2 linked regions of the Homo sapiens genome follow. The protein of the gene in region 2 purifies or fractionates together with the protein of the main gene of each other region. This does not show direct contact. Each region holds a gene or a part of one and is shown on either strand. Other genes may lie near its edges.

Region 1 (3,500 bases), on a different chromosome or scaffold from region 2:
GAGAGAAAGAGAGAAATGTGGGGAATATAATTCCCCAGAGAGAAGTGCTTAATGGAGACGTTCAGCAAGTATCAATAGCAATAACTGGGAGTGACAGTCCTAGAAGTGGCCGGGTTCATCTGGGCAAGGAAAGGCTTTCCCTATAGGTGCAGTAGCCACATTTCCCAAATCCTAAGTCAGGACTCATCATCTGCTGAAAACAAGTGTGCTTCTAGAAACAAAGGAATAACAGATGAAGTTGGGGCTGCTCCTGGATGGGTCCCTTGTGGTTTCCGTGTCCAGCTTTGTCCACTTCAAATCAGGACACAGCGGGCAGAAGTGATCATAGATTCATCAAGGGCATGGCCGCCAGGCAGCCCCAGGGACAATGGGTCCCACCCACATCAGCCTGTGGAGAAGCTGCAGGGGCTGTCTGCTGCCTGGGTGGGGTCCCAGCACAGGCACTAGGCTCTGCCCAACCAGGGCCTCTGCCTTCCTCTAGTCTATGCAGCATAGAGTGGAGACGGCCCTGTGGCAGGGGCTCCGCAGGCTCACCGAGTTGCAGGCGTTGGCTCTCTCCACCTTCGAGAGGCTTCTCACATCCGTGTTGAACACATTCATCTTCTCCACCAGGGTGGTGAGTGCTGTCTCGGTGGCCTCGCCGACCTTCTCATAGACACCTTTGGCCTGAGATGGGCAGAGGAGGAAGAGGAAGTCGGTGCCCCAGGCTCCTACCTGTCATACCCTCCTTCCACCTAGCGTAAGAAGGAAGCAAACCACTGCCTCCCTTGCACCCTGGCAGAGGGCTGGGTGTACTGGGTCCCCTTCCTCCAACCCTTTCCTCCTGGCCTTCGGAGGAGGCCCAGACTCTGAGCCAACTGGAAGGGGAAGGAGAGGTTACCTCGTTGAAGTCCAAGGAGGAGTCATTGCAGAGGGCACAGATGGTGGCCAGCTCCACCAGCCCGTCATACTGCCCTGGCCGGACTGGCTTATCATTCTTCAAGCTGGCAGCAGGGTCAGGGGAGGAAGGGACAGAGACAGTGGAGAAGAACAGGGAATGAGATGCAGAGAGGGCACAGGAAGAGCAGGCAGCAGAGGGTAAGGAAGGACAGTGGGGAGAGCCAACTCGGATATCAGGAGAGAGAACAAGGTCGGGGAGGAAGAGGAGAGTGAAAGGAGAGCAAAACCACATGGAGGGCCCCAGGGAGAAAGGGGGTGTGGGAAGGGGCGTGAGGAGCTGGGGAGAAGATGCCTGGGTGACTTACACCTCTCCCTCTGGAGCGTAAGTGGAGCCGGTGATGGAGAACTCATTCAGGAGGCAGATGTCCCCATCCACCTTGTCAATGATAAACATCTGCAGGGGAGAAGGGCAGGCACACAGATGTCCACCTCTTCCCATCCCAAGGTGGGCACCTGCATCAAGGGAGGCCTGCACTGCCAACACCTACCTTCCCACCATTTCCCTCCTACTCACCCCTCCTCATCCCCCCCGTATACCCTACCCACTTCCCACCAAGCTGTTGCAATCATTCTCTATCAACAGCCTTAAAACAATAGTTACTGAGGCTGGGCGAGGTGGCTCACACCTGTAATCCCAGCACTTTAGGAGGCTGAGGTGGGCGGATCACCTGTCAGGAGTGCAAGACCATCCTGGCCAACATGATGAAACCGTCTCTACTAAAAATACAAAAATTAGCCAGGTGTGGTGGTGCGCGCCTGTAATCCCAGCTACTCTGGAGGCTGAGGCAGGAGAATCGCTTGAACCTGGGAGGCAGAGGTTTCAGTGAGCCAGGATCGTGCCATTACACTCCAGCCTGGGCGACAAGAGCCAAACTCAAAAAAAAAAAAAAAAACAAAAAAAAACCCACAAACGAGTGACCGCAGGCTGTGCTGTGCTGGAGCTTCTGTAGACCAGTTAATAAAATAAGATGGAACACAATAAGGTATGGTGGGGACTGTGGCAAACAGCCCAACTATTGGCACCTGGACCATCTACAGCTCCAGCTGCATGTGGCCAGATCTTCCAGTTTTGCAGGAAGAGCTAGAAATTCAGGTTATCTTCCTATGAAATCTCTTGACTTTTTCTTTTTCTTTTTGTTTTTTAAGATAGGTTCTTGCTCTGTTGCCCAGGCTGGAGTACAGTGGTGTGATCATAGCTCATTGCAGCCTCAACCTCCCGGGCTCAAGTGATCCTCCCACCTCAGCCTACCCAAGTAGTTGGGGCCACAGGCACATGCCACCATGCCTGTCTCTCTTGCTCTCTCTCTCTCTCTTTTTTTTTTTTTTTGGTAGAAATTGGGTCTCACTATGTTGCCCAGGCTGGTTTTGAACTCCTGGGCTCAAGTGATCTTCCTGCCTTGGCCTCCCAAAGTGCTGGGAGTACAGGCACCCACCATGATGCTGGGAGTACAGGCAACTACCATGCCCAGCCTCTTGACTTTCAAATATATGGGCAATTCTTTTTTTTTTTTTTGGAGATGCAGTTTCACTCTTGTTGCCCAGGCTGGTGCAATCTCGGCTAACTGCAACCTCCGCCTCCTGGGTTCAAGTGATTCTCCTGCCTCAGCCTCCAGAGTAGCTGGGAGTACAGGCATACGCCACCACGCCCAGCTAATTTTGTATTTTTAGTAGAGACGGAATTTCGCCATGTTGGCCAGGCTGGTCCCGAACTCCTGACCTCAGGTGATCCACTCACCTTGGCCTCCCAAAGTGCTGGGATTACAGGCGTGAGAATTAATTCATTTTTATGAAACATGACAGGAGCCAAGTCACACGAGCCTGTGGTCTGGCTTTGTGGCCTGTGCGTTAGAGGGATGTGGAGAACGCAGTGCCCAGGAGGAGTGGCCTACCCTGAATCCTGGGCAAACGCAACAGAGACTGGGCTTTTCATTCCCGAGAAGAGAGATGGTTAAGATGGGTTCCAAGACAAAAAAGTTCTGTGGTCAGAAAAAAAACTTGGGAACCTCTGGGGCAAAGCAGAATCCGTCTTCTTTACACAGTCAGCCTCCTCTAAGGCTTTCAAATAGCAGCAGATGTTGTGGGTCTCGCCCAGGAGCCAAGGTTACAGCCTTTCTCACCCTGATCTGACCACACAGCCCTTGCTTCTCAGAACAGCAATTTCTAGTTCATGGGTGTAGTCTTCCACAAAACTCTGTGAAGGGCAGGGGTTCTTGGCCTGAGGTCAGTGGAAGACCCTGCAAGGAGCCCAAGAACTGAGATAGCCAAGAAAAAAACGACAGCTTTTCTTGTTCTCAAGCTGACGTTTGACATTTCCTTCCAGTTATGCATGTTGTCAACAGACCACATTAGTATTAGCAAAACCTGTGACTGTCACCAATTTAATCACAGATACTTTCCTCCTATCACATTACCACTGTTGCAGATCTCTCAAAATAGCATAATTTATGCTCACCACTGCTTCAACATTATGATAGTGCTTAGACCCACTGCGAGAACTCCCTAATTAATGCCTTAATAAAGAAGCATGTGTGTTGCCAAATTACAAAGTTGTTTTTAAAAAT
Region 2 (3,500 bases):
TGATTCTCCTCCCGCCACCTGAGGCCGGAATGAGGTCGTCGGCTGCTGCTCCCTGTCCTCCCTGCTGGGAAATGGCGTCCGAGCCTCAATGGGGCATCAGGACGTGGAATTCATGAACAGGGTTGACAGAGACGTGAGGCCGTCACTGCCGAGCCTGCAGCTGTGGACAGACCTGTCCTCACAGCCACCTCATGGCGTCAGAGGGTCCCGAGGCTCACCTGGCAGTAGCCCACTCCCTGGTTATGGTGCCCATATGCCAGCAGCACATTGTACAGGGTCCTCTGTAAGCAGGGGTCCGTGGTCTTCCGGAACTTCACGTTGTCGGGGAAGGTCCGGTTCAGGTCTGTGGGAAATTCAGAAGGAATCACCCACGGGTTTCTGTTCCACAAGCCTCCCACCCCTCCAGCTGCCCCGAGGGTGGCCACCTGGGTTCCACTTGGGACTTACGGACTGGTTTTCACCCTGGCCGCACAGCAGACTCAACACAGCCAGAGCGACAGGCTCACTGGGCCAGGAAGGAGGGGGTGATCCTGAACTCGGGGCGGAGAGGGGCCCTAACCGTCCTTCCCGCAGAGTCAGGGACAGCAGAGCGACCCCAGAGCTGGTGGCCAGGCCATGGCACTCCCTCCTCAATGCCCGTCTCCTCCCGGCCCCCAGCACAGGCCTCCTGCACCTCGGACCTCGCGCGTAGCGGAGGCAACTCTGCCTCGAGGACCCAGGGTGACAGGTGGAGAGAAATGCACACAAAACTTTGAGGTGTTTTCCTAATTTCAAAGATCCAAAACAGAAGGAGACAGAATAAATTGAGACTCCTCAGAGATAAAGGACACGGCTGAGAGCTGAGAGCTGAGAACTGAATAAACCTCGAGTTGTCAGCTTGTGTGTGCAGGAGGCATCCCTGCCGGCCTCTTCCTTCCTCAGCACCAACCCCTCCCACTGTCCCGCCCAGGCATCTCTTGGCAGGACAGTGTGGCCTTGGCCAAGCTGTTTAGTGCTGGGGGACCCGGATACCACGTGGGTCCCTGAGACTAACCAAGCCTCACGCTGACCAAGTGCCAGGCCTCACTGAAGCTGACCTCCGCGTTAACCCTGGACACAAGCCGAGCAGGAAGGATAATGCCGGCTTGACAACTCCACTGGTTTCTGCTCCCACTGGCCCTACCTCTGTTAGAGGTGTTCGCCAGGCACCCCATGCGGTCACCAGCAGACAGCCGCTTTCTGCACAAGTTCCAAGATGGACTCACAGCAGTCCCCGCCAGCCATGACGCTGAGATGGGTGTACACCCAGCTCTGGAGGAACCCAACCGCCTGTGGTCTCTCCACAACGGCTGCAAAATACTGTAAGTCTGTTTCCGACCTCTGGCCCCAGGCCTTATCTTTGCTTACAAAAAACTAGATTTGGGCCAACATTAGTTCAATGCCTCAGAGCACATTATTTCTCATTGTGTGTTTTCTTACAAAAGAGCCTTTTTTTTTTTCTGGAATTCTAAACATTCCAAAAAATGGAATCAGTCAAGGGGAAGTTAGTATTTTTGCTATTTCAGACTAGAGTGACCAGCTGTGTTCATTTATATGTAATATTTTTATTGAGTTTTCTATATTTATATATATATTTATATATATTTATATATTTTTATATTTTTATATATATTTATATATATTTATATATATTTTATATATATTTTATATATATTTTTATATATATTTTATATATATATTTATATATATTTTATATATATATATATATTTATATATATATTTAACACAGGGTCTCACTCTGTCACCCAGGCTGGAGTGCAGAGGTGCAATCACGGCTCACTGCATCCTCGACCTCCAGGGCTCAAGCGATCCTCCCACCTCAGCTTCCTGAGTAGCTGAGACTACAGGCACACACCACCATGCCTGGGCTAATTTACGTATTGTTTTGTAAAGACAGAGTTTTGCCATGGTGGCCAGGCTGGTCTTGAACTCCTGAGCTCAACTAATCCGCCTGCCTCAGCTTCCCGAAGTGCTGGGATTACAGGCGTGAGCCACCACACTAAGTTTCTTGATATGTTTTGATAACATCCTGTGGGAAAGGAGATGGCTCCATCTCCATTGTGGAGACAGAAGAGCATGGGAGCTTTCTGTCTGCACTGCGTGGCCTGGCATTGGCTCTGTGGGACTGGACCATCCACTGCATGGCTCCTGAAAGATAACTGACCAGGTGGCTCCAATTACTAAGCACAGAACTGTCATGGATCCAGCAGCCCCACACTCTAGGTAGGAGCCCACAGCTGAAAGCAGGGACCCAGTAGAATCCACACTCTGGGTAGGAGCCCACAGCTGAAAGCAGGGACCCAGCAGAGTCCACTCTAGGTAGGAGCCCACAGCTGAAAGCAGGGACCCAGCCCCACACTCTGGGTAGGAACCCACAGCTGAAAGCAGGGACCCAGCCCCACACTCTGGGTAGGAACCCACAGCTGAAAGCAGGGACCCAGCCCCACACTCTGGGTAGGAACCCACAGCTGAAAGCAGGGACCCAGCCCCACACTCTGGGTAGGAACCCACAGCTGAAAGCAGGGGCCCAGCCCCACACTCTGGGTAGGAACCCACAGCTGAAAGCAGGGACCCAGCAGAATCCACACTCTGGGTAGGAACCCACAGCTGAAAGCAGGGACCCAGCAGAATCCACATACCCAGGCTCACGGCCATGCCACCCATAACAGCCGTGCGGCAGGAGAGCCCAGGGGTCCACTGATAGATGGATAAATGAACAAAATGTAGTCTGCCCATGCGTGGAATATTATTCACCCTTAAAGAAGGAGGAAATTGTCACACAAGATGCAGTACAGAGGATCCCTGAGGACTGAGGCGAGGGAAAGGACCCCAGCTGCAGAGGACGCAGCCCACGGGACTCCTCTTATGTGACCCTGGAGTTGCCAAAGCACGGAGACAAGCGTACAGTGGGACTGCCAGGGGCTGGGCAAGGACACGGGGGTCGGTGCTTGACAATGGGGATGGCACAGAGACAAGCGCACAGCGGGATTGCCAGGGGCTGGGTGAGGACATGGGGTTCAGTGCTTAACAATGGGGAAGCTCCCAAGAGCTTCAGCTTGGGAAAATGAAATGGTAAATTTTATATTAGGCATATTTTACCATAATTTAAAAAACAATTCAGCCAGGTGGGTGGCTCACTCCTGTAACCCTAGCACTTTGGGAGGTGAAGGAGGGCGAATCCTCAGAGCCCGGGAGTTCAAGACCAAAACCCCATCTCTGCAAAAAAATAAAAATTAAAAAATGAGCCAGGTGTGGTGGTGCACACCTGTGGTTCAGACCACTTCCAGCTACGCAGGAGGCTGAGGCAGGAGGATCGCTTGAGCCTGGTAGGTCACGGCTGAAGTGAGCTGTCACTGTGACCGCACCACTACACTCCAGTCTGGGTAACAGACTGACACCTGTCATAAAAAATAAAAAAATTCATCCAAAAAACCACAAAACAGAGACTTTAAATGCATTTT

Evidence for each region.
Region 1: the proteins of GRTP1 (region 2) and ATP2A1 purify together in Homo sapiens (affinity purification with mass spectrometry; one large-scale study listed by BioGRID and IntAct). This does not show direct contact.

What each region holds. Positions count from the first base shown.
Region 1 is NC_000016.10:28,891,988-28,895,487, reverse strand, and holds part of ATP2A1 (sarcoplasmic/endoplasmic reticulum calcium ATPase 1), read right to left. Parts: intron 1,334-3,500; coding exon 1,245-1,333; intron 984-1,244; coding exon 881-983; intron 667-880; coding exon 535-666; intron 1-534. UniProt on the Homo sapiens protein: Key regulator of striated muscle performance by acting as the major Ca(2+) ATPase responsible for the reuptake of cytosolic Ca(2+) into the sarcoplasmic reticulum.
Region 2 is NC_000013.11:113,350,631-113,354,130, forward strand, and holds part of GRTP1 (growth hormone-regulated TBC protein 1), read right to left. Parts: intron 1,341-3,500; exon of another isoform or gene 1,043-1,340; intron 344-1,042; coding exon 219-343; intron 1-218. UniProt on the Homo sapiens protein: May act as a GTPase-activating protein for Rab family protein(s).